3 separate regions of the Homo sapiens genome follow, and all the other regions are reported to be linked to region 2. Evidence: microRNA targets listed by miRTarBase, many of them from high-throughput screens and not tested one by one. Region 2 holds a microRNA gene; each other region holds the end of a gene's coding sequence.
Evidence for each region. The annotated mature microRNA hsa-miR-3158-5p reads CCUGCAGAGAGGAAGCCCUUC and lies in region 2 at 4,881-4,901, opposite strand. An mRNA with a match to its seed (bases 2 to 7 or 8) in the 3' UTR can be bound and repressed. Matches are read on the target gene's strand: a 7mer-m8 pairs with bases 2 to 8, a 7mer-A1 pairs with bases 2 to 7 and ends in A, and an 8mer does both.

Region 1 (10,399 bases), not on the chromosome of region 2:
AACATAATAAGACTCACTCCTGCCTTCATCAGCTATGACAAGAGCTATGGCAGTGAGTGACCCACCAGGAAGGACCCCCCCCATCAGTCTCCTAATGAAGAACCTAAGTCCGTGCTGTCCTATACAGCAACCAGTAGTCAGGTGTGGCTATTGAACACTGGAAATAGGGCTGGGCCAGACTGAGATGTTTTCTAAGAGGAAAATCACATTGGATTTTGAAGACTTCATTTGGAAAAAAGAATGTAAAATATCCCAGTAATTTTTATATTGATTCCATGCTGAAGTGATACTATTTTTGACATGTTAGGTTAAAATGTAGTCTAAAAATTAATTTCACTGATTTTAGCTGTTTCTTTGGACTTTAAAAAATGTGGCTACTAGAATATTTTAAATTGCATATGTGGCTTGGATCATGGTTCCATTGGATGACGCTGGTCTATACTACCTTCCTGAAGCTGGTTCCATCACTGTGACCCAGCAGAGGAGAGGAAAGTTGGGATTGAAGGTGCCTCTAATCATGGGTTGGGTCACTGGCCAAGCTCGACGTGCCTCCCCTCTCTGGGGCAGCTGGTCTTCTCAGTCCTGCAGGGAGACAGCTGTTTATGCTGCAGATTTACCTAATCCCTGCTCCTCTTTCCTACTTCCTATTACTTCAGGGTTACTGCTTTGAGGATCCTTCTCTGCTGCCTTGCTGAGGATTTTCTGGTGCTTCTGCCATCTGTCCTTCCCAAAGCTCCGTTCATCTTACCTCTGCTCCCAACCCACATCTTCTGCCTACTGCCTCCACGCCACCACTGCCTCCACCATCTTCAGTCTTATTTGGTAGCAACCCTTGGCCAGACTCCCTGCTTCTGACACTGCAAGCCACATTTATATGGTGAGTCATAAATTACAAAGCAATTCACACATCATCTCCTTGGATGCTCTTTCTCCTACCCCAGCCCAGTGCAGCAAAGCTCAGTCAGTAGAGACTGATAGTAAAATGAGATCGTCAAAGTGGGTGGGAAAAGGAATCTGAGAATGAAACGGTAGATAGAAGGCTCTGGACTCTGAGTGCAAACTGGCTGCTAGCTCAAGGTCACTTTCTGAGGGGCGAAAGCAGAGGCCAGGAGTAGCAGAGAGAAAACATCTCCTAATTTACCTCCATGCAGTAAGCACGCACTAGCAAGGGCTCAAAGTCTCTCTAGAAATAGCAGCAAAATACACAAGGGGACTGCGCACCCCCAGAGCCCTGGAAGCCCCTGATCCCCATTTGGCTGAGAAGACGTGGAGACAAGGTGAGGTAATGAGACTCCCCCAAGGCCCTGAGTGAGCCGGTGACAGGGCCACTCATGCCACCCCAGAGTCAGGTCTTTGTCATGACCCTTGCCATGACCCTTCAAACATTGCTGATTTACTTTTATTTTGGGGGAAGTGCATTCTACTTTACAGGGAAAAACCTTTAGAACAGAGAGTTCTAAGCAGACACTGATGACTGTGAGAGAAACAACCAGAAAAAAACCTCCTGTGTCAATGGTATCCCTCCCTTCATATCCCACCCTAACTCAGGATTTTAGGGCCGTCCACAGAAGTCCTCAGAAAACTAAGGGCTACATCATTGCATTTGTTTAATCTCAATCTCCCTCCCCTTTATTTTCAGTTTTCACTTTTATTTGTACATTTTTACAGATAGTCTTGAATAGCAAAACAGTCACACCATGGGTGGAAATGGGGAAGGAGTATGAGAATGAGTTCATGAAAGCTCTTCACAGGAAAGGCTTCGTCACGCTCACAACACAGACGCACTGGTACAGACGGAGAGGGTCTATGGGTGACCCGGAAAGGAAAGGAAAAGCTCAGCCAGTGGGAGGAATGGGGTTCTGGAGAGGAGAGAGGGATACAGAGTTCCTTAAGGAGCAACACCTGGTCCTTGGGAATGAAGTGTAGGAGTTGCATTTGCTGAGGTTGGTGTTTGCCAAAGAGATGCCAGCTTCTTCGAACTACTGCTGTGCAACTCTTCATGTTCAGACCCAGTTTTCTGTTTTTCACACCTGAACATACACCCCCCTGCAGTTGGGTGGCTCCCCCGTTACCAGCTGGGCTCTATCTACAGAGAGAGCAATGGCTTCCCTTCCCTTGAAGGAAGTCTCACCCTCACAAGGACACTTGATCCGCTGCAAAGCAGAAAGTGTGCGGACCCTTTGGGAAGGGCGTTCTTTTCTTGTTTAGAACCTAGGATTCTGTTTTTCCCAAACAGGATCACACCCAGACACGTCTTAGTGAATGTACCATCTAAAGGGCTTCCTTATATGAATTCATATGTTTTTGACGAAGCTACTGGCTTCAGCAACTGACAAGAGAAAGAAGATCCCAGCTCCTTGAGACTTGGTCTCATCCTAAACTTGAAAGATCATTGAAACCTTTCAGAATCTGATTTGCTTCCACCCATTCCTTTTGGGAATGTACAGCTAGAAATAACGTTAGGAGAATTAAAAAAAAAAATACTAAGGCATTGACCATGTGCCTTGGTTAACAGTTAACTGGTTTAGCTCATATATGCTATTTGCCCCATATGGTTTACTCATTCTGTCACCTCTGGGAATAACTGAGATGGATAAAAGTGCCCTTTGCAAAACTGGCTCTAGACAAAAGGAAGTCTAGGAATAGGTAAAGAAAAATAAGGAGCCAATTTCTCTGGGGGACCTGAATGAAGAATAGAATCCTTTAAGTGTGCTTAAGTGCGACAGGTCCAGCCCTGTTCAGCAACAAAGATGACCTTGCACTCTGGGTTATCCTTCAGCAGCGAGGCACAGACACTTGATGTGAGAATTCCATTCCAGCGGGGGGTCTTCTGAGGGATAATTAGAACATACATAACTCATATGACACTTCATGTTTGCAAATCACTTTGCAATTTCTTTGTCACCCTTAATATACCATGAGGTAAGGTGTTATCACTTATCCTCATTTTGTAGATGAGGAAGTTCAAGTATGGAGAAGACACAGTGCCCAGAGTCACAAATCATTTCAGTGCAGAGCTGTAGTGAAATTTACAGTAACTGTTACACAAGTGTAGCTTAATGAGTGAGTTACTCTGGCTTCCGCATTCTTACATCTATGATTAGATTGAGATGGCAACTGACCAAAAAAAAAAAGGAAAGAAAAGGAAGGAAGGAAAGCAGGCAGACAGGCCCAAAGAGACATCTTTTAGCCCTGCTCCATCCTGCCCCTAAGGTCTGGCATTAAACTTTTAGGCCTCTTTGCTATCTCTGGGGGCTCAGGGCCCTGCACTCTTGCTGCCAGGAACACAGGGTCAACTCAACGCAGACCAGTGCGGTTCTGTGGTGTACACTGCTCACATGGCCCCAGCTGCCAACCCAGAGACAAGCACTCATTGGGGAAGTTTTGAGGTCATGACCATTTGGATTGGGCCCGCGGTAGATGCCTCAGAGTGACTGGATTATGAAAAATCTTGTAGTCTTTTTTGTATTTTATTTTTCTTATTTTCTACAATGAGCAGTTATTATTCAGGAAAGAAATCCAATACTCAGTAATCACATATTCTAAGAACCAGGAATAATGTTTAAGAAACATTTTGCATCATGGCAGCATCAATGAAAAGAGGGCAAACACAGCCCCAGACATTGAGAGCTTTGAGAGACAGACACGAGAATCACGTGTGTATGTCAACTCTGGTGGGGTTCTTAAAAATCTGCCCCCTTAGTCTATCCCACACCAGCTGGAAGATGGCATGGAAGGCAACCCTGCTGGTGTGCACCAGCTCTTCCTATCTGCACTGAAATCACCTCTCACTCAGAAACATCGTATTTCCCTGGAAAGGGCTGGCTGTGTCCCCTGGGATGGATGTGTCCCCTGGGATGGGTAAGTCCCCTGAAGACAGGGAACATTTTCAGAAAAGCAACTTCACTTTAACTACAAGAATCAACCAAGTATCCCCCACAAACCACACCAAAGGATGACCAGAGTGTATCTCTTCCCACTCCTTCCCCCAGATATTTGAAAAATCACTTAACACTCAGCACATAATCCAGGTGAAGAGAGAGTCCATTCTAAATGCCTCTGGGTGATGTACCTGAGTTCATTATTCTGAATTTGACCCAGGTGGGCATCTTTGGAGACCTAAGCAGCACATCCTCCCACTAAATCAAGACAGCTACACACAGTGCATTCATTTCCGGCATCTTATCATGAGTGTGGATGAATATTGAGATATAGGGCCCAGTCTCAGAGTCCTAGGATATCCTACCCTCTTGTCACAGGAGAGGCAAGCATTGCTAGGTGGGACCACTCATCCCTGATGGGAAGATATGCACCTGGGCTCAGGGCGCTTAAGAAAGTCTTTGTCTAGATTTGGAGGAGTTGTCCAGTCTCTGTGACTCCATGATCCCTGAAGTTGAAAGGGTAGGGTTGTTGAAAAGCTAAGGCTTGGAGGAGGATTGAAGCTGGAACAGGCACAGATTTTATTTTTCATATTTTGATGCCAGGGAGCCACAGACCTCCTTATAAAACCTACAGCCACAATGAACAAGGAAGGGGGCTGCTTGGAGTCTAGGAGCCTCTCTACAGATGAATCACTTGTCTATGTTAATTGACCAAAGTTGATGCAGGAGAAAGTAGGAGTGAGTAGAGAGAGAGGAAACGGAAACAGAAGAAGAAACCGTAACTCCCAAAATAAGGAGAAAAAGATATGGGACCTCTCTCTAGGTAGAATACCTCACTTTCCTGAATCTCAAGGTAGTAGAGTAGGGAAGGAAATAAAAGTTGCAATGGGCCCCAGGCTCAAGGTTGACTTGCATGGAGCTCAAAGCACATACATGTTCATATGCCAGTAAGAAGTTTGAACTTGACCTGGGGTTGCGGCTGGTGACTTTAGTGAGGTCATTGACCCTAAATGCCCTCATAAGGTTGGGTTCCACTTTGATTTGGAGTTAGCAGAGTCTGACCTACAGAGCCTCACAAGTCAAGGCTCCTCTCTTCCTCCTCCTCATCTCCCTCAGCTACCTCACAGCCAGAAAGCTTCCGTAACTGGTTGGAGTCACATGTTTTAATCTGTGGTCAAGCCCTTATGCTAGAGGGATCAAGGTCACCTGAGAAGTCCTCCCATTGGCCAGGACTTGCCGTCTGAAAGGGGCCTCTATCCTGGTCATGTGGCTGGGCGTCTTTTGCTTCCCAGCAGGATCAGATCCCAAAGTGTGTTCGTATTTATCTGGTCCTGCTATCAAAGAAGTCACTCAAAGCCCCTGCTCTGGGCTGGTGAGTTGAGCCCAGGTTGTTTACGTCTTTCCTGGGAGCTTTCTAACATTTCAGGAACTCTCAAGGTTTCAAAGGGATGCAGTAAGCTTTGCTAAATGTCTGTCACAAAGACAATAATTGGATAGAGCAGATAATCTATTCATTGAAAGTATGGGATTTTTTTTTAAAAAGAGGATATAAATAATGATAGGTCTGTGAGCCAGCATCCTCAAACATGATTACTTACAAAAAGTTTAAATGGTTCATAGCAAATTTCCCCATTTAGAATTTTTCCCCTCTCTCCTGCAACTGGAAAAAAGCTGGAATTTCAGTGTGGTCATAGACAAGCCCTCTCCCCCAAATGGATGCTTGTGAACCTGTCTGTCCCTTCCTCGGCAGAGCCCCTTCAGGACGCTTGGAAGGAAGACAAAAGGCCTCTCAATCTGAGATACTTTTCTTCACTTTTCCTTAAGCCCAAGTATGCCCTTCCCCTTAAGGGAGAAATCTAACTTTTCAAAGAAAATTAGAAATAAAATGCCCAATTGAAAAACTGGGTTTTCCTGAAAATTATTTCCCTTCTCATAGAATAAATCCTTTGTTTTAAAAATAATCCTTAGAACCCCAACTGGAAGCTAACAACTTTTCCCGTTGCACACCTTACCCTATCGCCCAGCACACCCACACACAGGGAACTCACACATGAGACCTTTTGCAGAAGCTGACCAGAGTCCCCGGTAAGGAAGTCTTGAGTAGGGCACCCACACCTGTGTGCAGGTGTGTACTGACACAAACGTACACAAAATGCACCAGAGAGATACACATACAGAGAGATCCACATTCAACCCCATTCATGCACATCAGATGTCATATCATATCCAGATATGAATTACATACACGCAGTTCAAAGGAGCAGATGAGGGTGGAAGATAGAAGAGAGAGAAGGTAAGTGGTTAGTAGGTGAGAAAAGGAGGAGAGTGGTAGGAAGATGGGTTGGAAGACGTGTAAATGAAACAGATTACACAGCAGTGGAAGAAAGGCTGCTGAGTGCCTGGCAAAGCTCCCAAAGCATATTTGTTTATGAAACAAGGGGATTCTCTGCTACACAGTTGACCATGGCTACACCAGCTCAGGGATTCTCACCTGGCCTCCCCAGGGCTGCTGGGCACCAGCAGGCTCACTGAGATGACTGTGAGCGGCTCCAGCCCACTCCAGCAGACTCCCACCCCTACAGCGTTCACAACTCTCTGGCTGACTTTGCTTGCCAGCACCTGCAGTGCTAATTTGCTCAAATGAGCCCGAGACACTGGGGTGGATTTATTCCACCTCTGTTTGGGTGCTAGCCACTAAGACTGTTATTTTGGGATTCATGGCCTTGAATATCAAGAGGGAAAGGAAGAGGATGGAAAGAGTCAAGAGTTCTGCATTAATTTACACAATATCATACAAACTTGAGCCCATGGGAAATGGAGGTGCTCTCTCTGCATGTGACCCACTTCCTTTCGTTTGTACAGAGGTCACCCCTAGGGAAAGGGGAGATGTCCAGTGACAAAGGACAGCTTCTATAATGGGGAGTGAAGGTCTTGTTGGTTTATGTTCTTGTACAACAGCAACCAGAGCAACATTTCTTCTCTCTCCTGAACTGTGTGTTCCCCCTCTTCTCTCATGGCTTATGTGCCCAGCTGTGTCTTGAACTTCCAAAATTAGAGGACTAAATCGTGCAGAGTCCCAGAGCTGTAATGTGGAGAACCACGGGGGTCCTCTGGCCCAGTGGCTTTGTTCTTGGTTCTGCCCTCTGGAAATTTCAGCTATACCAGAAACAATTTAAAAAAACACAACACAAACAATAAAACCCCACGCTCAAGAAACATCCACCACACACACACACACACACACACACACACACACACACGCACACACACACCACTCCAGGGATCTGTAGCTGCAGAATTGGCACCCTTATAGGCCTGTCCCTCATGACAATTTCTAGGTCTCTGGGCCTCTATCTGGGGCCATGAAACCACTACAGTGATAAGAGAGACAACAGTCATAATGCAGTATTTCCATTTAAAAGGTAGAAAAGAAAAAAAGGAAACCGCCCAAAGTACACATGCACGCACACCCACACACACACATCACAGCATGACTCCAAGGCTCCAGTCTGCCCAGGGAGTGCAGGTGCGGCTGGGGACAGGGTGGCCTCTTGTTTCACTGGGTGTAAGGCAGCTGGAAGGTAAGACTGGGTTGTCTGAGCATCCACCGAAGCGTCCTTTCATTGATGCAGATCTTGCCTCTCAGCATGTTCTCTTCCCTTCCCACCTATGAAACATGGTCCAAAAGTTTGGCAGCAAAGAGAAAACGTCCTTCTCAGTTTGTTTTCTCTTCCACTCCTTGTGTGTTGCTGGTGGGCTGGGAAGGAAGTCCGAACAGGAAGAGCAGGAGAAGAAGTGATTCTGAAAATGGCCTCAATAATTTGGTTACATTCTAGGAACTGAGGGCTTTGTTACCCTGTGATATGACTGGTTAGGGGTGGCGTCCTCTCCCGTTGACCCAGTGGGTGGCACTTCCTTCTCTACATCTGTGCTGCCTCAGACCCCTTCCACTGTCCCTTCACCACCCCATCCTCGCCAGTGATGGGGATCAAGACGCGGTCGCAAGTGGTGGTGTTTGCTCTGTCTTCAAGAGACCATGAAGCCAAAAGTCAAGAACTGATGGAAGAGCCACAGGATGGAAAAACTTTCCCCATCTCAGAGATGAGGCAACACAAAGTCCGGCGAGATGCAGGTGCCTGAGCCAACTCAACTCTACCTTGGCACTGGCATCGTCTTGATTTAGTTTTGTTTTGTTTTATATATGTATATTATATATATATATTTATATATATATATGTATGTATGGGTTTGTTTTTTAGCACACTGTCCCATTCTCGGGTCTGGATTTAGGGTAGTTGGTCCTCGGGACAGGTTGAACAGAAGGGGCTAAGGTACAGAAGAATCCCGAGATGAGTGTGAGGCCCAGGCCCCCCCATGCACAGAACATGGACCAGCCATAGCCATGGCTGATGTCATCAGGGAGTCCGTACAGGTAGCGTGGGTAGCGTGACAGCTCAAAGTTGATCCCGGCCACACAGGTGCACAGTGAAATGATGCAGAAGGTTCCTGGAGGACAAGGGAAAAGACACAGGATGGGGAAATGGAGAAGGAAAGGGGAGAGGAGCGGGAGAGAGAAAGAGAAAAGTTAATATTATTACATTTTCAATTTTCTTGAGTAGGAAAAATGGGAAGTCTAGGTAAGAGCAGGTTATCACCAAGGTCAGTATCTGGAAATATTCATGGAGCAGAGAATAGTATTAAAGGATCATCACTTCATCACTCTCCAATAATGGCCCAGTCTTGGACACACTCGGGAAGTCTCTCCTTTGGGAAGATGCTAAATAGATATCTCATGAGCATTTTGTGTGGGGTAGAGTGAGCAGAAGAGCATTCAGTTCATTTTCCTAAAGCATTTTAAATTCATTGTATTTCTTTGGAGACATGGAAAACACCTACTGTTTGCTACTTCTTTAAAGAGAAAAACAATCTTTTCTCTTTCTTATACATAACAACTTACTCATACAGTATTAGGTTTTCCTTTAATCTGTTCACCAACAATTCTTCCAAAACCTGGAAATATTTTCCTTTTTCCTATAAGACATTTCCCAAAGTGTTCTCTCTGGAGTGCTAACGCTATGAGATCCTTTACAAAGTGGGAGGCAGAGTCAAAAGACGGGGAATCCTACTCATGACTTCTCACCCATGAACACGCATCATCCACGTTAATATTAAGGTAACTCATCTACCCTACTTTATGCAGAATTTCACAAACTTATTGATGATGGGACGTCCTCTTAAAAACATTACTTATATCAGTCTCTAATAAGAAAACTGCTATAAGAGGTAGAATGATATAAAATGGTTTAGAATTATAAACCCATTTTAAACTAATACAACAAGTTTTTGGTGTGCCTAAAATGAATTCAATAACTTTTCTCTGCATTTGCCGTGTTTTCTGTTCTTTATGTAACCACTGATATGAGAGCAATGAGCAGAAGAAGGATGTATAGTTTGGGAAGGCTGGGCTGGGTCAATGGAAGGAAGAAAAAGGAAAAGCACTTTTATAGGGAAGGAACAAAAGGAGGTGCATTCAATTTTATATTTATTATTAAAACTCTTGCTTTCTAACAGCCAAGTTTCTTTAAGATTGAGACTTGTTTCTTTAAGATCTAGCCTAATTTTTTCCAGAAGCTTCCTGGAAGACAAGGAAGAAAATATAGAGTGGAAGAATGAGGCTCACCAGCTCGTGATAATTTAAATGGCCACAGTTGACCCTAAAATAAGTATTAAGTGCTATGTGCTAGGAACTGTGCTAATGATATACTGGTTAAAAATGAATTATTTAGGCAGAGAGTGAGGGTAAAGAAGTCCTCGGTAAGGTTTTCCTTTTAATAAAAAGCAACCCCCAAATCATTTCTTTGAGCAAATGAGCAGCCTGTAAAATTGAGCTGCAGACATAGATAAGCAAGCTGGAAGCTTGCATGGGTGCATACTGGCAGCTGTGCCAATAGGAAGAGGCTGCCTGGGGGCTAGGCATGTTCAACATGGTGGCTGCATCTTCCCTTTTCTTTGTCAACCACATGAACAGTAAGGAGGAAACAAGATGGTGCCCGCCAGGTAGAAAATCCGTTTGCATAATGAAAAGATTAGGATGGGGTGGCCAGCTTCTTCGTGCCCTATGTAAATGTCACACCCGGTTCAACCAATCTTTGAGCCCTATGTATCAGACGCCGCCACCTCAAGCCGGTCTATAAAACCCTATGCACTTCGCCACAGACTGGAAGTCCCACTTGGGCACCCTTCTCTCTCTGCAAGAGAGAGAGCTATTCTCCTTTCTCTTTCTTTTGTCTATTAAACCTCCGGTCCTAAACCCACTTCTTGTGTGTCTGTGTCCTCGAGTTCCCTGGCGTGAGATGACAAATGTCGGATAATTACCCCAGACAGTGACACTGCCTCACTAAATTTGTGGCATGTACTAAAACCTTAATTCATAAAACAACTCTAAGATGTGGGTTATATTATCCCCATTTTACTGATAAGGACATTGACGCCCAGAGAGCTTAAGTCATTTGCCTAAG
Region 2 (10,399 bases):
TTCCCCAGAAAGGCCTGAGTGTGGACTGATGGGCAGACAGGAGGACCTCACTTGAGCCACTGGGCCCAGCTCTAGAACAGCAGATCTTTTTCTTACTCTTCTTCCTATCCACCACTGCTGCCCTGGCAAAATACTCTCCATTATTAATTTTTAAGTATAAATAATCCCAGGGGTTGAGCTGGCTTTTGCTTGTGCATTCTATGAAGTAAAGTAGGGACATGGTTTTTGTGGCAATAAATAGGAATAGTTTCCATTTTTCTAGCTAAGTATACAAATTTGATAATTAGCCAAACCAGTTTTCTGTTAGAAAAATTCAAAGTAATTTACAGAGGAAGAATTGCCAATAGGTGTGCGTCAGTCTGGGACAGAGTTCCTCCCGTCGGTGTTAATAAGCATGTTAGTGTCCTGTTTTTTTCCTACCCTCTCAGTGCTATTCATTCCCACCCCCCACAATGATTGCTGCATGTATTCATAGAGGAAAAAACTGAAGGCCCCACAACAATGATCGGAACATCAAACCAGCCTGAGAAGAACACAGCATGTCCAAGGGGGCTGAGGCTGAAGGGCAGGCCATCCCCCAGCGATTACATTCGGATTACCGACTTAATCTGCTTTGGTATTTGACCGCCAGCCTAACCACCCCAGGCTGCATTTGGAGGATATTGAGCACTTTCATCCCCAAGCACTTCACTGGCTTTATAAATGACCCACTCGATTCCCTTCGGCCTCCTCTGGGATGGGACATGGCAGCTGTTTAATTGCCACATAGCAATGTTGCAGTGTTTTAAGGCAGAAAAGAAGAATCCTGCATCCAGTTGAAGCTGCAGGGAACATTTAGGGAAGGGGAATGTAATTATCCACATTGGAAGTGGGCCAGGGTTTGGAGCTTTGGGGAAAGAGGCCTTTAGGACTTCTACTTTCCAGCCCACCTGAAAGATGGGGCCTCCTTTCAGCAGTCTGGGACATCAGCCTGCTTCCTGCTGATTTAGGAAAAAGCCCCCAGGCGCCACCTCCTTTATATATTCCCCATCAGACTCTTCACCGGGGTGGAAAGTCTCTTTTCCAAGGTCTGGCTGGGGCTCAGCTGGGAAGATATGACAGCGTCCCGGGAAGCTGCCTCACACCAGTTTGGGTTTAACATATAATCAAATCAGAGTGACAGCAGATGGAAACAGTCTTCTGTTGCCGCAGGAGCCGTCCTTGAGTTCAGAAACAAAGACGGGGGCAAGAAAGACAAGACAAAGTGTGCATTTGTACATGTGTGTTCACACCCATGCACTTGTGCATAGGAAAAATAAGAAGGACTTCCCCAAAATCTTTTATTGGGTCTTATCTCTAGAGGGAATGGGAAAGGAGACTTTCTTCTACATTCTAACAAAGAATTTAATTCTCAAGGTGTTTAAACAAAAAATAAAGGTGAAGCAGCCAGAGGTGTCAAGTTCCCTGAGTGGTTTTTAAGGTCAGAAGTAAGGAAATCAGCAGCTGACTTTCTTCCTTCTTTGAGTACTTCTTGGGAAGTTTTCTGTGTAAAACTCAAAATTTTTTGGAGTAAAAGTGCACAGAAAACCCTGGGGTGGTTGTCGTCCCTCCAGGCCACCTTGGTGCATTATTATGCATTAGGACACCCATTTTAGCAAGGCCCATGACTTACAGGGGCACCTCACTTATCCAGCCCTAGGTCGTGAGGTAGTCCTCATAATTTACTTTTTCAGATAATCAAAGCTTACCCTTTAAAGGCCAAATATAAAAAATAAATTGAGCTACTTAAAAAAAAACAGAAACCTTTCAAAATATTACATGTGCTTATTGAACACTTTCAGAATAAAGTTTTATTAATAATTCAAATTCTGGATTTGGAGTTAGGAGACCTGGAGTTTAGCCGTGGCATTTGTAAGATTGTCTCCTTGAGCCTCAGTAATTCTTCATAGTCTGTTTCCTAGAGAGTAGTGGCAAGGGTTGAAAGAGAGCAGTCAGGGAAAAAATGCTATTTCTCATTTTAAAAATACAGACATTGGGTAGATGCTTTCTTTTTTTTTTTTTTTTTTTTTTTTTTTTTTGAGACGGAGTTTCACTCTTGTTGCCCAGGCTGGAGTGCAATGGCACAATCTCAGCTCACCACAGCCTCCACCTCCCAGGTTCAAGCGATTCTCCTGCCTCAGCCTCCCCAGTAGCTGGGACTACAGGCGTGTGCCACCACACCCAGCTAATGTTTTATTTTTAGTAGAGACGGGGTTTCTCCATGTTGGCCAGGCTGGTCTCGAACTCCCTCAGGTGATCCGCCCGCCTTGGCCTCCCAAAGTGCTGGGATTACAGGCATGAGCCACCACGCCCGGCCTGGAGTAGATGCTTTCTAAAGGAACTTCCACCTTTAAAATCTGTGATGGTTGTGTTCTATTATAAAGTGGCACCATTGGAGTCTAAGGGTGCTTGTTTGCCCTTACACTAAATGGTCCCAAGTGTTTATGTGGTTCTGACACTGCCGTCCAGTGTGAGTTGTCCCCGATACCATTGTCAATATGCCTGAGAAAAAAAGTAATTTCCTGCCTTATTCTACACACAGCATTTTATACCTAGTCTGAGCGAGAATCTGAGAGTGATCTTTCCTATAGTATAGAGTAGGGTACATGGATCTTTTCACAATAAGCTGCTGCTCGGAGGCATTTGTCACTTCTGAGTTTGCAACTGTGTCAGAGGCCCCCAGAAGGCTGCTTCCAGTGAAGTGAGGTATTAACACTGAATAGATTTGGATATACTCCTGGTCACAGTCCGTTCACTTAAGAGAGAAGTATTTGTGGGGGAAAAAAGTTGCCTATAAAGCATATTTCCAAGTTTTACTCTTCCTTATTAATTTTCATTATAAACTTGGAAATGTGTTTCTAGGGAGAATTTTTGGCCCTAAGAGGTAATAAAATCACACTGCAGAATGCAGCAGACCTTATAAAAGCACATATTTAAGGGAAAATTCTAATTTTACAGCACACTTTTGTGTTCAGCTTGTGTGCCTTACTTATACCGGTGAGGGCGTTTGGATTTGACACAGCTGCTCAAAAGGTCTAAAGTAAAACCGCCGGCTGCCTAGTGCTGAGAACCTGACTGTAGCTCTCAACTCCTACCTGGAAAAAGACACAAACAGAAACAACTGTAACTGAGTACTGTGCACTTTTTGAGTTGTTTAGCTCCTTAAACAGCTACAGAGGCTGCTGGTCTTTAGCACCAGCTGGGCTCCTCAGGCTGGAGGATACCATAGTGGGCAGCCCCGGATTCCAAATGCAGCAGGAAGGGAAAGGAACTGGGGGATAGGAGGTCATGGCTCAGAAAAGATCCCCCTGCAGTGATGGACCGCATGGTTCCTGAAAATGAAAATCTCAGCAGGGGTTTTCAGGTAGTCCATTCAACTAGTTTCTTGATTTATAATTTTCATAATATATGTGCCTTAAAATCTTATGCAAGCATCTGGGTTATGAAACAAGGTAAAATAGAGATGGTTATTTGCATTCTAGAAGGATTCCCTTTTACAAAAAATTCACATTAGATCTTTTATAAACCGTGCATTTAAAATATGGCATGTGCCTACGATTTTGTTTAAATGCAGCTTTGGAGCGTTTTTTTGTTTTTGCTTTTTTCTTTTTTTTTAAGCAAGGTATACCTGAAAAGAGTGAATTTCTATATTTGGACTTTCTGAATCATGATACAGACCTGCCGAACAGCTTTCACCCTCTTAATTATTTTTTCCTCTGCATGTTTTTGAGGGAAAAAGTGTGCTTCAACTCCTTTTTGGGATCCAAATTTTCTCCATTACCAGAAACAACCCTTTTCCTAATCTTCACATCTTCTCCTTGCTTGAAGCCACACCTGAGGGTTTCTTGACTCCACTTGGCTCTTCTCAGAGCTTCATTCCAGTTCCTTTTGCCTGAGCACCCATGAGATGCGCTTTGAGGGTTGTCTAATGTTGAAATGCTCTACTGAAATTTCAGAAGTTGTGAGGTCCCTCCTTAGATTAACAAAGCTGAGAGTAAAGGCCCAACACTCCCACTTTCATCTTGTGCTAGTTACCTAGTGTGGTGCCGGTGATTCAGCAGAAAAGAGCAGAGACCCTCTCTTCACTCTCATCCTGATGCTTGCTTCTCATCCCGATGCTTGCTTCTCTCCCCAGTGAGAAAGTGGCGTGTGAAAAGTGCCCTGGGAGCCATGGGCCAGTGGCAGCTTGAAGTAGGAGACCCAGCGCCCCTAGGAGCAGGGAACCTGGGGCCTGAACTCATCAAGGAAAGCAATGCCAATGTACGTCCATCTGTCCAGGTGTCTTGCACGGACTGAGGTGGGGGTGGGCTGTGGGCTGCTGGCTCTTGAGGGCAGGGACCATGTCTTGTTCACCTCCTCGCCTCCAGTGTGCCACCTGGACACAGCACTCTATAAATGTTTGTTTGAATGAATACAGACATTTTGGCTTGATCGTCCCAGGGCGGGGGCTCAGGGCCTGGAGTGCTGTAGCAATAGCAGCGTCAGAGGGGAGCAGTGGAGAAGAGCTGAGGGTCTTGTTGTGCCCCGGGGTAGCGCTCTGATGAGGGTGGAGCCTTCCCTTCCCCAGGAACAGTCCTCGAGTTGGATTTGCCTTCTGCAGCCTATCTTCATGCGCAAGGACACCAAGATGAGTTTCCAGTGGCGGATTCGAAACCTCCCCTATCCTAAGGATGTCTATAGTGTCTCTGTGGACCAGAAGGAGCGCTGCATCATTGTCAGAACAACCAACAAGAAGTGAGTAGCGTGGAAGGCACCCTGTGTGCTTGTGTATGAGCGGGGTGTAGGGTGGGGTTTGATCTGGCGTTAGGATCATTATTCAGGCCGGTCCTGCAGAGAGGAAGCCCTTCTGCTTACAGGTATTGGAAGGGCTTCCTCTCTGCAGGACCGGCCTGAATAATGTAATCAGCTCCATCGGGGAAGAGAAACTTGAATGAGTATCTAGTATAGTACCTGGCATAGATAGGGGCTCAGTAAATATTTGTTGAATGAATGAGATGATGAGGGAAATCACAGGACCATTAACTTGTGGTCTCAGGTGGTTCTGCTGAAAGGTTATTATGACCTTGGTCTCCTGACTGGAGCCAGGCCTTGGTAAGGGTGGCCTGGTGACATCACTGTCAGAGCTGGCAGGGAGCCATAGCTTGGAAGGCACCCCTGTCTGAAGTGGGAGTGACAGTCCTTTAAAGCAGTACTTGACAGCAGTTTAAAGCAGACTGGGCAGCAGTAAACCTAATCCCTCCCCAGACTGACAGTGGGGCAGATGCTTGGGCCGCTTGGAAGTCTCTTGCATAATGCTTCAAAAGGGGTACTCAACTTCCCTTTGTGGTCCCCTAGAGGGGAGGCAAACTGCAGGGGTTGAAAGGACAGAAGGTGGCCACAGTGCATTTCCATTTTGGAAATGCATTGATCTCATTTAGGTTTCTGGAGCCCTGACTGATCACAGGAGAACAATGCCCTGTGTGAGGCCTGAAGGGAATGACCCTGAAATGAATCAATCTTGACCTGGGCTAGAGAGAATACAGTCTAGGGACAACTCCCACAAAATAGATTTGGGCATTGAGATGGGAGGTTTTATAAGTTACCTGTCTGCAAGCTGTGAAGCCATTCAACATGCCTCATGGGGATGCCCCCACCCATCTCTTGCTTTACATGCAGTAATGGGGACACAGCTCCTTGTGCATCTCCTCAGGTGATGTGGTGCCAGTCTCCCCTTCCATCTCCCTCAGGCTCACGAGGCCCACAGGGAAGCAGGGTAGCTCCCAGACTCCCCCATCGCAGCCCTGGGTGCTGCCATCCTCTTGTGACCCCCATATCCCATTGCTTTGGCAGGGTTAAGAGGACAGGGGAAAGGGTGGAGATGGATGAATTAATTTCAGGATTATTGCTGTACATGCAGCCAGCAGCCCCTGCAGTGGGCCTTGTCTATAAATATAAAGTCATAATAATAAGGGTTTGTGTTTATAAAGCACTTTGAAGCCCTCAGATAAGAGGCAGTTTATTCCCGTTATTGTTCTCATCATTAACAGGAGTCACTGCCTAAAGTGGAATTTAGCAATTTCAGACAACAGAGAAATTGCCTGTAGGAGAACAAACTCCATGCTTCAGCAAGCATTCCTTGGTGGAAGAGGCCTTGGGTCCAAACTGGGAACAAAAGTGCTTCTGATAGCACTTGAATCTGCAGCCCAGCACTTTGTGAAGCTGGCTGCTGCCTCTTTTTTGTCCCCCAGAGGTCACTGTCGAATACAGATATCAGACAGAAATGTGATTACCAGGGAGTGAGGAAAGAGGCTAGCTAGCTCACCAAAAAATTCATCTGCCAGCATATCCTCTGGGTCCCATCTCCTGCGCACATCCAGCCATAGGTGGCGCTGTTGGCCAGGAGCTCCATGGCTGGAGGCCCAGGCTAGCTCTCAAGGCAAGCAGGGGTTGTTGGACATTTTTGAAATGATGGGTGAGGCCAGGTGGGATGGGAGTGATGCCCCTGGAGGGGCAGGGCTGAGGGTTGGATTCCCATAGAGGACAGAGGAGTGTTTCAGGGCCCACTTTGGAACCCACACTGAGCCTCTGGTCCAGTGTCCCAGCCTGGCTCATCCCTGCCCTCCTCAGGTCTCTCTGTTGGGAGGTAACCTAGAGGCCGCTGAACCCTTAGCCAGATCGTTCCCGAACCTAGTGGCATTTTTACCTTCTACCTGGAAGAATGTATTTTATACCTTTACTCCCATTAATTATATAGAACTCAATGGGTATTCCTTTATTATTATTATTAATTTGGAAGGGAGAGATTTATTTCTCATCAGGGGTTACAGCCTGCATAGACATTCTTTTTTATTTTTATTTTTATTTATTTATTTTTTTTTTAAGAGATGGAGTCTTGGCTGGGCGCGGTGGCTCACGCCTGTAATCCCAGCACTCTGGGAAGCCAAGGCAGGTGGATCATCTGAGGTCAGGAGTTTGAGACCAGCCTGGCCAACATGGCGAAACCCTGTCTCTCTAAAAATACAAAAATTAGCCAGGCGTGGTGGTGCATGCCTGTAGTCCCAGCTACTCGGGAGGCTGAGGAAGGAGAATCGCTTGAACCCAGGAGGTAGAGGTTGCAGTGAGCCAAGATCATGCCATTGCACTCCAGCCTGGGTGACAGAGTGAGACTCCATCTCAAAAAAAAAAAAAGAGATGGAGTCTTGCCCTATTGCCCAGGCTAGAGTCCACTTCTTGCAATCATAGCTCACTGTAGCTTTGAACTCCTGGGCTCAAGGGATCCTCCCGCCTCATCCTCCTGAGAAGCTGGGACTATAGGCGCATACCACCCAATCTGGCCAAGTTTAAACAATTTTTTATAGCGTTGAGGGTCTCTCCATTTTGCCCAAGCTGCTCTCAAAATCCTGGGCTCAAGTGATCCTCCTGCCTTGGCCTCCTGAAGTGCTGAGATTACAAGCATGAGCCACCACACCCAGACCAGGGTGGCCATTCTGGCAGGTGGGGAAGTGTGGCCTCTGGCCAGAAGCCAAAAACTCAATGGCTACTCCCTTCCACAGTGTTTAGCTTTTTAAGGATATAGTACATTTAAAATCTGTTTTCTGATCATCATTCTGTCAGGAGGTGGACAGGATCCATACTTTTATTCTTGTGTTATAGATGATTATATAAATGTATATATAAAGTCAGCATGATGAACCAGCTTGCTGAAAGTTAGTGACTGTCTCTCCTGATACTCAGACATCTGCACTTCAGAAATGCACATCATGGCATTTCTCTCTGATTTGACCTCTTCCTTCACCTGGAGGTTCCATAACCTGCCCCAGTTCTAATATTCTGGAATGTGGTTACTAACCAAAGCCAGAGTTTCTTTACCCATACTTGCCTTGTCTCTGAAGAGCTGGGTTGGTGACTTTACTTGAAGGAATTGATTGCAGTGTATCATGTCCTTGGCCTCACATATTAGTGAGGGATGAATCAGGGAAGGAAAAAAGTGCTTTTCCAGGATCCCAGTGTTGGACCATCTATTCCTGATAACGTTTGTGCAGAAAGAGGGCTCCTAGCCTCAGCCTGGAAGTTGGCCGCTGTAGGTGGAATGAGCCAGGGTGCAGGAGTGAGAAGTTGTTGGGTTAAATCTGGCCTCTGCCACTGTTAGCTGTAGAATTTAGGCAAGGTTTCCTCATCTATCAGAGAAGACTCACAGCTACTTCACAGATTTTGGGGAATTTGATGAAATCATATATGTACAGGCCAGCACAACGGCTGGCCTGAAGCAGGTCCTCAACAGTTCTTTGGAAATTGGAATCTGAGGAGAGCTTGGCTGATTTGACATCGGTGATAGTAACACTGTGGGAGGTGTTAATAGGCTTCACTAGAAAAAAGGATTCTGTGGTTAAATAAATTTAAGAAACTCTGGATTAAACAGGCTTCTCTTTGGTGGGGCCGAGAGCCTTTAGTATGTGTGTGTGATTGTGACTGTCTAGCAGGGGGCGACTGTGGGTGGGGGTGCCAAGTTTGCCCAGAGCCTTGATGTTTAAGAAGATTTGCTTGCTGCTTTTCTAAAGGCGGACTGGTTGGAGGCTTCTCTGGACCCCTCTGGCCATGCGGTGTGCAGGTGTGCATGGCACCCCCTCTGAGGTATGTGAGGCATGACCCAAGTGATTGTCCACAGCAGCCCTGCTCCTGCCTTCAGCCTCCAGAGTCTCTCTCCCTCTGAGGGCCTGGCCTCTGGTGCCCTTTTGGGTTGAAAGGCTGGATTGGGGAGGGGATACAGTAGAGAGTGGTGGGAGGCAATAGATCATTACTGAAATAGTCAAAATGGAGGAGTCGTCTGTCAAACAGGGAGAAGACAGGTACAGAGTTGGCCTGTTCTGGGCCCTTTGACATTGACTTCAAGTTCATCTAGTGCAGCTCTTTTATTCGAAGAAGGAATGTGGAAACTGAGGCCCAGAAATTAAGTGACCTGTCCGGGGTCACAAGGCAGGGCCAGGAGTTCTGCTACAAGCCTTTACTTCCACATACATCTTTTGAAGACTTTTGACATTCAGAAAGGAAGGCCACTGATGTGTTGGAGAGAGTACCCAGGGGACCCGCAGAGTGTTCGGACCCCAGGGGAGACAACCTGTTCATTGTTGAACATCCCCACCTCCCACCTCAATATCTGCCCCATCATTGGACAAATGCAAATAATCTAGACTATGGCGGGCTATTACTTTGTGGTGAGAATGTGGAGACATGGAGGTGTCAGGAGATTTGGGGAATTCTCACTTTAATACGGGCTTCTCTGTTTACCAGCTTTGTGAGTTGGGCAAGATATCTAACTTTTCTGGGCCTCAGTTTCCTTTTGTTTAAAAGTGGATAATAGAAGTAACCAACCTGAGAGAGTTGTTTTGACAATTAAATGTGTTTAGAACCTGGCACAGAATAAGCTCTTAAAATGTCATCTTTCATTGTATGGCTGAAATAGAACATTGAAGGGAGGTGGGAATGGGGGAGAGCGGGGCATCTGCAGGAAGCCAGGGAACTATCCTGCTGTAAGGGTTCATCTTTTAGCAGAAACAAAACAAGGTCTGATCAGCAGGGATATGGCCTTGTTCCTTTTTTTGAGATTGAGTCTGGCTCTGTTGCCCAGGCTGGAGTGCAGTGGCACGATCTTGGCTCACTGCAACCTCCGCCCCCTGGGTTCAAGTGACTCTCCTGCCTCAGCCTCCCAAGTAGCTAGGACTACAGGTGCTGCTACCACGCCTGGCTAAGTTTTGTGCTTTTAGTAGAGACAGGGTTTCACCATGTTGGCCAGGCTGGTCTTGAACTCCTGGCCTCAAGTGATCTGCCTACCTCGGCCTCCCAAAATGCTGGGATTACAGAAGTGAGCCACTGCATCTGGAGGCCTTGTTTCTTCTTCATCCTTTTCTTTTAATTTTTTGTAGAGACAGGGTCTCGCTATGTTGCCCAGGCTGGTCTTGAACTCCTGGCCTCAAGTGATCCTCCCACCTCAGCCTCCCAAAGTGCTGGGATTACAGGCATGAGTCACCAGGCCCGCCCTCTTCTTCATCCTTAAATCCCCAGCTCACAGCTCAAGGTCTGGGACACAGTTGATGCCCAATAAATGTTTGCTGCCTACCTACAGCTGCCTGAGGCTGAACGTTATGACCCTTCCAGAAGCACAGTGGGTCTCTCTCTTGTCCAGGTGCTGGTGAGAAAGTCAAGTACAGTACCTATCATGGAAAAACCCTATGTCTGGGGGAATGGGTGTGAGAAGGGGGTGGGCTTCCCCAGGAGGAGAAAAGGCAGATGCTCCCTACTCCCTTGAGCCTATCGGGAGCTTCTAAGAAGTTGGTTAACCTCGACCAATAAACTAAATCTATTACAAGAGACTCAAAACCAAGCTGAGCCTCCACCTGCTCTGCCT
Region 3 (7,000 bases), not on the chromosome of region 2:
ACAGTTGTATAGGTTGTGCACTGCACAAGGGCATTAAACCTAAGGGGCACCATTCACATTGTCAACCTGCTAGATTTCTAGCAGATGAGAGTAAAGTACCTTGTTCTACCAAAATCATATATTATGACAATTTCAGACAGATGGAAGTAAAACATCTTGAAGAAAGAGGGTCTTTTCCTTATTTGCACAAATGTGTCATATGAGTGTGGCCTTAGCTGGCATCACTATCTCCCAGGGAGGAAGGTTGAGTTGGAGGACTCAGGAGGCAGGTGTGGGGTACACCCTCTCCCTAGGTCAGCTATGCTGGTCTAACACCTGCCTCTGCCAGGTAACTCTAGGCACAGCTCTACCTTTTTGGGCCTCAGCCTCCCAATCTGCAGATACGACAGATGGCAAAGATGGGAGGATGAATGAGTGCCTATATCTGTGCCCCACAGCCTCTGGAATAACCCCATTCCCTGCGACATGGCCCAGCACCTGAAGAGCCAGGAGCCCAGGCTGGACTTTGCCTTCTTTGACAACCAGCCCCAGGCCCCTTGGGGTACTTGATGGCCCCCTCAAGACCTTTGGAATCCAGCCAAGTGATGCACCCAAATGATCCACCTTTCGCCCACTGGGATAATTGACTCAGGAAAGAAGAGCCTCGGCAGGGCGCTCTGCACTCCACCCAGGAGGAAGGATACGTGTGTCCTGCTGCAGTCCTCAGGGAGAACTTTTTTGGGAACCAGGAGCTGGGTCTGGACAAAGGAGTACCCTGCATTACGTGGGATATGTGTGATCAATTGGGGACATGCGACACACAATGAGGGTGTCATGACAATGCATGACACGTACGGTTATATGTGGCAGTGTGACCCCTTGACATGTGGCGTTACATGAAAGTCAGTGTGGCACGTGTTCTGTGGCATGGGTGCTGGCATCCCAAGTAGCAGGATACATGATTGTTGGTCTATATATGACACATGACAAATGTCCATGTCACAGGACTCATGGCTGGCCAGATGACCTCAGGCTGGCCCAAGATCTAATTTATTAATTTTTAAAGCAAATACATATTTATAGATTGTGTGTATGGAGCAGCTAAGTCAGGAAAAGTCTTCCGCCCGAGCTGGGAGGGGAGAGTGTCCATGCACTGACCAGTCCAGGGGCTCAAGGGCCAGGGCTCTGGAACAAGCCAGGGACTCAGCCATTAAGTCCCCTCCTGCCTCAATCCTCAGCCTACCCATCTATAAACTTGATGACTCCTCCCTTACTTACATACTAGCTTCCAAGGACAGGTGGAGGTAGGGCCAGCCTGGCGGGAGTGGAGAAGCCCAGTCTGTCCTATGTAAGGGACAAAGCCAGGTCTAATGGTACTGGGTAGGGGGCACTGCCAAGACAATAAGCTAGGCTACTGGGTCCAGCTACTACTTTGGTGGGATTCAGGTGAGTCTCCATGCACTTCACATGTTACCCAGTGTTCTTGTTACTTCCAAGGAGAACCAAGAATGGCTCTGTCACACTCGAAGCCAGGCTTGATCAATAAACACAATGGTATTCCACGTCTAGCGTGAATCCAATGTTTCCTCTTACCCCACTGAAGTCAGAGGTGGTTCACCCCCTGCCGTAAGGACTGGACAGCAGCGCAAACAACAGAGAGGTGTGCTGAGTGGAGCACTGGCCTGGGAGTCAGGAGACATGGGTTCCCAGCTCAGGACTTGTCTCTAGTCACGTGGCCATGGGCAAGTTACCTCCTCTCTCCAGACCTCGCCTGCAACGTGAGGGTGTTATAGAAGCTCAGCATGTTAGAAACATTTTTTGTTTGACTTGCATAACATTGAAACTACTTTCTGAATTCATTGTCAGTATTCAAAATTGGGAATTTTACATAAAAATTCAGATTCTGCTTGCTTTTAAGTGCTAATCCAGCACTCCCACTGAAGAGTCACATGACTGTGCCTTTTAGATGTGCACACATGCCTCAGCTTGCTGCAGTCCCCACCACTCCCCATTGTCTTGACACCCCACCTGACCCCACTTTTTGCTGCTCTTTGACCCTGGCCTAGAGAGTTTGCATGGGTATGTTGTACCAGAGGAACATGGCTTTGGAAGTCAGACAGGCATGGAATAGAATGTGACTTAACCCTTTGCTACCTGTCTTTGAGGTATGTGGGTTAGCAGCCACCCCCACAACACACAGACACACATTAAGACTGTTGGAGAGGTCAGGAAAGCAAGACGAGCAAAGTTACCGGCAAAAAAAACAAAAAACAAAAACGAGTTATCCTAGCTCTCCTCTCTTTTTATAGCCGAATATCATATGACGTGAAGAGATGCCCAAAATGACAGATCAGCATCCTGTCTCCCTCGTGTAGTTAAAACAAGTTGATCTTAGGGGGAGCCTCCCACCCCATTGTGAAAAACCAAGTCGGGAGGGTGGTGCAGTTACAGCTGAGCACCACTGGAGGGCAGGCTAGCCCACTGGCGATTCATGAGATAACTTCCTCCACTGTGGGACCCAGAAGGAAGTTAGGAGGCGATGCTGGGGCCTGTTCCCACCCGGCCTAGTAGCTTGGGATGTCCCAGCCTACCAGTGACATCACCTGGGTGGCTTGGCCTTGACCTTTGCAGCCCTCCAGGTTGTTCCTGGCCCCCTGCCAAGCATGAGGAGAAAGTCCTCCAGCCAAGTGCCAAGCACCCATACTTCACACAGGGCCACCCTTACCGGGCCAGGGTCAGGGCACACCTAGCACCAAATGGGCCCGTCAGCCTGCTCATGGGGGAAAAAGTAGGCAGGAAGAGGATCCAAGAAGTTTACCAGGCAACCCTGGGTCCGAAATTCTGTCTCCCTTTCCTGGGACATGATGCCGAGTTGACCTTGGCCTTCAGTGTGCCCAAGATCACCTTCACACTAGAGGGGTTGCATTGCCTCCTCTCCTTGCCCAAGAATGAAGGATGAATCCCTCAAAGCCTGGAAATAGCTTGGCAGGGGAGCCAAGGCCGAGGAAGGAGCAGAGGATACCAGCAGAGGCACCTGGCCATGGGGGACAGGGGACCCCGGAGCTCAAGGACACTATTTTCATTTGCTGCTTAGCCATTTTACTTCTCTCTTCGCCTTTTCCCCCCTTCATATCTGCCCAAATTCTACACTCCAAGAAACTTTCAGCAGCTTCCCTGAAATAAACCATAGTATTGCGGCACTGCAGAGCTGGCTGGGCCTACATCAAGTTGGTGTGAAATTGCCTTGTTCATTTTATTAAGAAACTTCCTCTCTTGCCACCTGCCTGCTTGGAGGCCTTAACCGTTTTTTGATTTTTCTTTTTCTTTTTCTTTTTTTTGAGACGGAGTCTTGCTCTGTCACCCAGGCTGGAGTGCAGTGCTGCAATTTGGGCTCACTGCAACCTCTGCCTCCCGGGTTCAAGCAATTCTCCTGCGTCAGCCTCCTGAGTAGCTGGGATTACAGATGTTCGCCACCACACCTGGCTAATTTTTGTATTTTTAGTAGAGACGGAGTTTCACTATGTTGGCCAGGCTGGTCTCAAACTCCTGACCTCAAGTGATCCACGTGCCTTGGCCTCCCAAAGTGCTGGGATTACAGGCATAAGCCACCATGCCCGGCCTGTTTTTCTATCCAGCACGGATGGAGTACAGCCTCCCTGCCCCCTTCCTCCCCAAAGTAGGCTCAGTTTAAATATATACATGAAAACAAATAAAATTCAAAGAAAAGCAAGGTTATGGGGTGGCAAGCAGTAAGATCCAATGGAAGCTCCCCGTCTCTGCATGTGAGCCATCGCACTGAGAATGCGATCAGGCTGGTAAGTACCCGCGTCTATCTGCAAGATGGGGAGAATCTCCTTTTACTACTTTGTCTCTTGGCCTCAGTCTTATAATTGTACAAATTGAACGTTCATCTTTCTTTTTTAGTTTTATTTATTATTATTATTTTATTTTTCCATAAGTTATTGGGATATAGGTGGTGTTTGGTTACATGAGTAAGTTCTTTAGTGGTGATTCATGAGATTTTGGTGCACCCAGCGCCCGAGCAGTATACACTGCACCATATTTGTAATCTTTTATCCCTCGCCCCTCTCCCACTCTTCCCCCGCAAGTCCCCAAAGTCCATTGTGTCTGAATGTCCATCTTTCTGATGGAAGTCACAGACTCCCCCTTCGCCTCCTTCACATGCCTCAGGTGCTGTCAAATTGCCTCCTCTATCCTTCCCCTAAACACACATCTGTCCAGCCAGTGGTTCCCAAGCTGTAAAACTGCAGTTACATAAATTGTAAGGGTGTCAGGATCCTGTCACCATGCAGATTCTGGTTCAGCAAGTCTGGGGCAGGATACCCAGACTTCTCCAGCCCTTCCAGACAGCCCCAGACACCTGGGATTCTGCATTTCTAAGAAGCCCCCAAGTGATGGCCATGTTGCTGGGCCATACTTAGCTTAGCAAGACTGTAGATGAGTGGATCGCAACCCTGACTGCACATTAGAGTCACCTGGGAAGCTTTTAAAAATCACTATTTTTAAAAGGAGTATTTGGGCTGAGTGCAGTGGCTCACGCTTATAATCCCAGCACTTTGGGAGGCTGAGGCAGGAGGATCACCTGAGCTCAGGAGTTTGAGACCAGCCTGGGCAAAATGGCGAAACCTCGTCTCTACAAAAAAACACAAAAATTAGCCGGGCGTGGTAGCATGCACCTGTAGTCCCAGCTACTCGGGGCGGGGGGTAGGGGTGGGGTGGGGTGCTGAAGTAGGAGGATCCCTTGAGTCTAGAAGGTGGAGGCTGCGGTGAGCCAAGATCATGCCACTGCACTCCAGCCTGGAGGACAGAGCAAGACCCTGTCTTGGGGGAAAAAAAGAGTATTTAGAAAGCTCCCTGAGTGATTCTAGTGTGCAGCCGCAGTGGAGACCCACTGGTCTGGAGTATGCCGTCTCTTGGAGAGGCTGGGCAAGCCTTTGCACCTGCACCTGCACCCCTTATTTTGTCCTGAGGATCCCATGACCCTCCCTCCCCAGAGAGGGACACTAACTCCAGAGACTTTTCCTAACTTTTCCAAAGGTACAAAGCTGGTAACTGGTGGCACCAGGAATCAAACCCAGGTCACTCCTGTGACACCCACAGTTTTCTCATCTGTATAGTAAGGGGATGAGCAAAAGGAGGTTAGGCACGAGGACCTATGTTCTTCAGCTGCAAAGATGATCTTATGGCTCATTTCTGCACTCCCTTGGGGAGAGTTCTGGATCCTCAGCCACCTGCCCTGCCTGGTTATTTCTGTAGAGCATCGCCAGCTGTGATGTACTCTAGGCCCAACAATCACAGCAACAATCTCCTCTATTTTACAGATGAGGAAACCAAGACACAGAGAGAGAACATGACTTGCCTAAGGTCACACAGTGAGTATTTAGTGGGGCTCAGACTCCAACTCTGGAACAAAAGGAAAGGGTGACTTTGGAGTGGTCCTGGACTGGAGATTTAACTGGTCTGCGGGTCTGTGTGTTCCCTGGAGAGAGAGAGACCCTCAGGAAGGCAGGAGGGCTGTGCACCCTTCTTGGGCTCTGCTTCTGCCCCCAACCCTACCCTTCATGGCCAAAGCTAGGCCTGAGGACCTGTGATGCACTCTAGGCACATCCAGAGCTTCCAGGAAAGACCATTCAGTGGCTGGTTTGGTAAAGATCATCTCTCGGCCAGGCGTGGTGGCTCACGCCTGCAATCCCAGCACTTTGGGAGGCTGAGGCGGGCGGATCACGAGGTCAGGAGATCGAGACTATCTCGGCTAACACAGTGAAACCCCGTCTCTACTAAAAATACAAAAAATTAACTGGGTGTGGTGGCGGGCGCCTGTAGTCCCAGCTACTCGGGAGGCTGAGGCAGGAGAATGGCACGAACCCAGGAGGTGGAGCTTGCAGTGAGCTGAGATTGCACCACGGCACTCTGGCCTGGGCAAAAAGAGCGAGACTCCATCTCAAAAAAAAAAAAAAAAAAAAAAAAAGATCATCTCATCCCGGGGCAAGGCTCAGGAAGTTCCAGGGACTGCTGGTCTTTGTCCTGCCTCCCAATTACCCCAGTGAAGAACCCTCCCCTTGGCCCTTGGAAGCCACACCTGGAGGCTCATCCCACACACACCCCAACCTAGCTGTCCAGAAAGAGACCTTTGCCCTGGGAAGGAGAGAACAGTAGAGGAGCTTTCCCCAGGGAAGAAAGGCCAACTGGGGACCCCTTGGTTAGGAGCCTGGGGCCAGAGGCATCAGTGGTCCTCATGGGACCCTTAGTCCTCCACCTCCCACTCCCCAACACACACCCACACATACTTCAGCACAGGGTCAGAGCTGAGGGAGGTGTCTGAGGTTGTCTGGAAGGGCTGGAGAAGTCTGGGTATCCTGATCCTAGAAAGGGACCGTCCCTGCATCAGAGTGACCACAACCCTGGAACTTAAAAAATAGCAATTATATGGCCGGGTGTGGTGGCTCATGCCTGTAATCCTAGCACTTTGGGAGGCCGAGGCAGGTGGATCATGAGGTCAGGAGATCGAGACCATCCTGGCCAACACGGTGAAACCCTGTCTCTACTAAAAATACAAAAAATTAGCCGGGTGTGGTGGCGGGCACCTGTAGTCCCAGCTACTCGGGAGGCTGAGGCAGGAGAATGGCGTGAACCCGGGAGGCAGAACTTGCAGTGAGCCGAGATCGTGCCACTGCACTACAGCCTGAGCGACAGAGCGAGACTCCGTCTCAACAACAACAAAAAAATAGCAATTATACACTAGCCCTGCTGTCTACACTTGCCTGGCACGTTACGGTCTCACTGAATTCTGTCTCATTGGATTCTCACAACCATCCCATAAAGCAAATACTAAGTCTATCCTATTTTACAGAGAAGGAGAGCAAGGGCCAGAGGATTGAGTGATTTCACCTAGGCAGCCGCTGAGCGGCTGGGATTCAAACTCATGGCCATGACTCCATGCCTGAGGTTTGACAATGGAGTCAGCCACACCTGCCTCTAACCAGGAGATCCTTGAGGGGAT

Region 1: the mRNA of TMEM178B is a reported target of hsa-miR-3158-5p. Seed matches in the 3' UTR shown: 7mer-m8 at 7,172-7,178 and 7mer-m8 at 606-612.
Region 3: miRTarBase lists NLRC5 as a target of hsa-miR-3158-5p. The part of its 3' UTR that is shown has no 7-base or 8-base seed match.

The regions. Positions count from the first base shown.
Region 1 is chr7:141,468,524-141,478,922 of GRCh38, reverse strand. TMEM178B (transmembrane protein 178B) reads right to left here. Exons shown (of 4, transcript NM_001195278.2): 4 at 1-8,387. The coding sequence ends at 8,137. Among named protein-coding and RNA genes, the nearest start is that of AGK-DT, 78 kb to the left of the region's middle.
Region 2 is chr10:101,596,585-101,606,983 of GRCh38, forward strand. It overlaps MIR3158-2 (microRNA 3158-2), which reads right to left and starts at 4,913; the gene lies at 4,833-4,913. DPCD (deleted in primary ciliary dyskinesia homolog (mouse)) reads left to right here. Exons shown (of 6, transcript NM_015448.3): 3 at 4,154-4,278; 4 at 4,619-4,752. It overlaps MIR3158-1 (microRNA 3158-1), which reads left to right and starts at 4,833; the gene lies at 4,833-4,913. RefSeq lists an enhancer at 414-982 and a silencer at 6,302-6,461.
Region 3 is chr16:57,081,980-57,088,979 of GRCh38, forward strand. NLRC5 (NLR family CARD domain containing 5) reads left to right here. Exons shown (of 49, transcript NM_001384950.1): 49 at 438-1,541. The coding sequence ends at 549. Among named protein-coding and RNA genes, the nearest start is that of CPNE2, 7.1 kb to the right of the region's middle. RefSeq lists an enhancer at 2,554-2,683.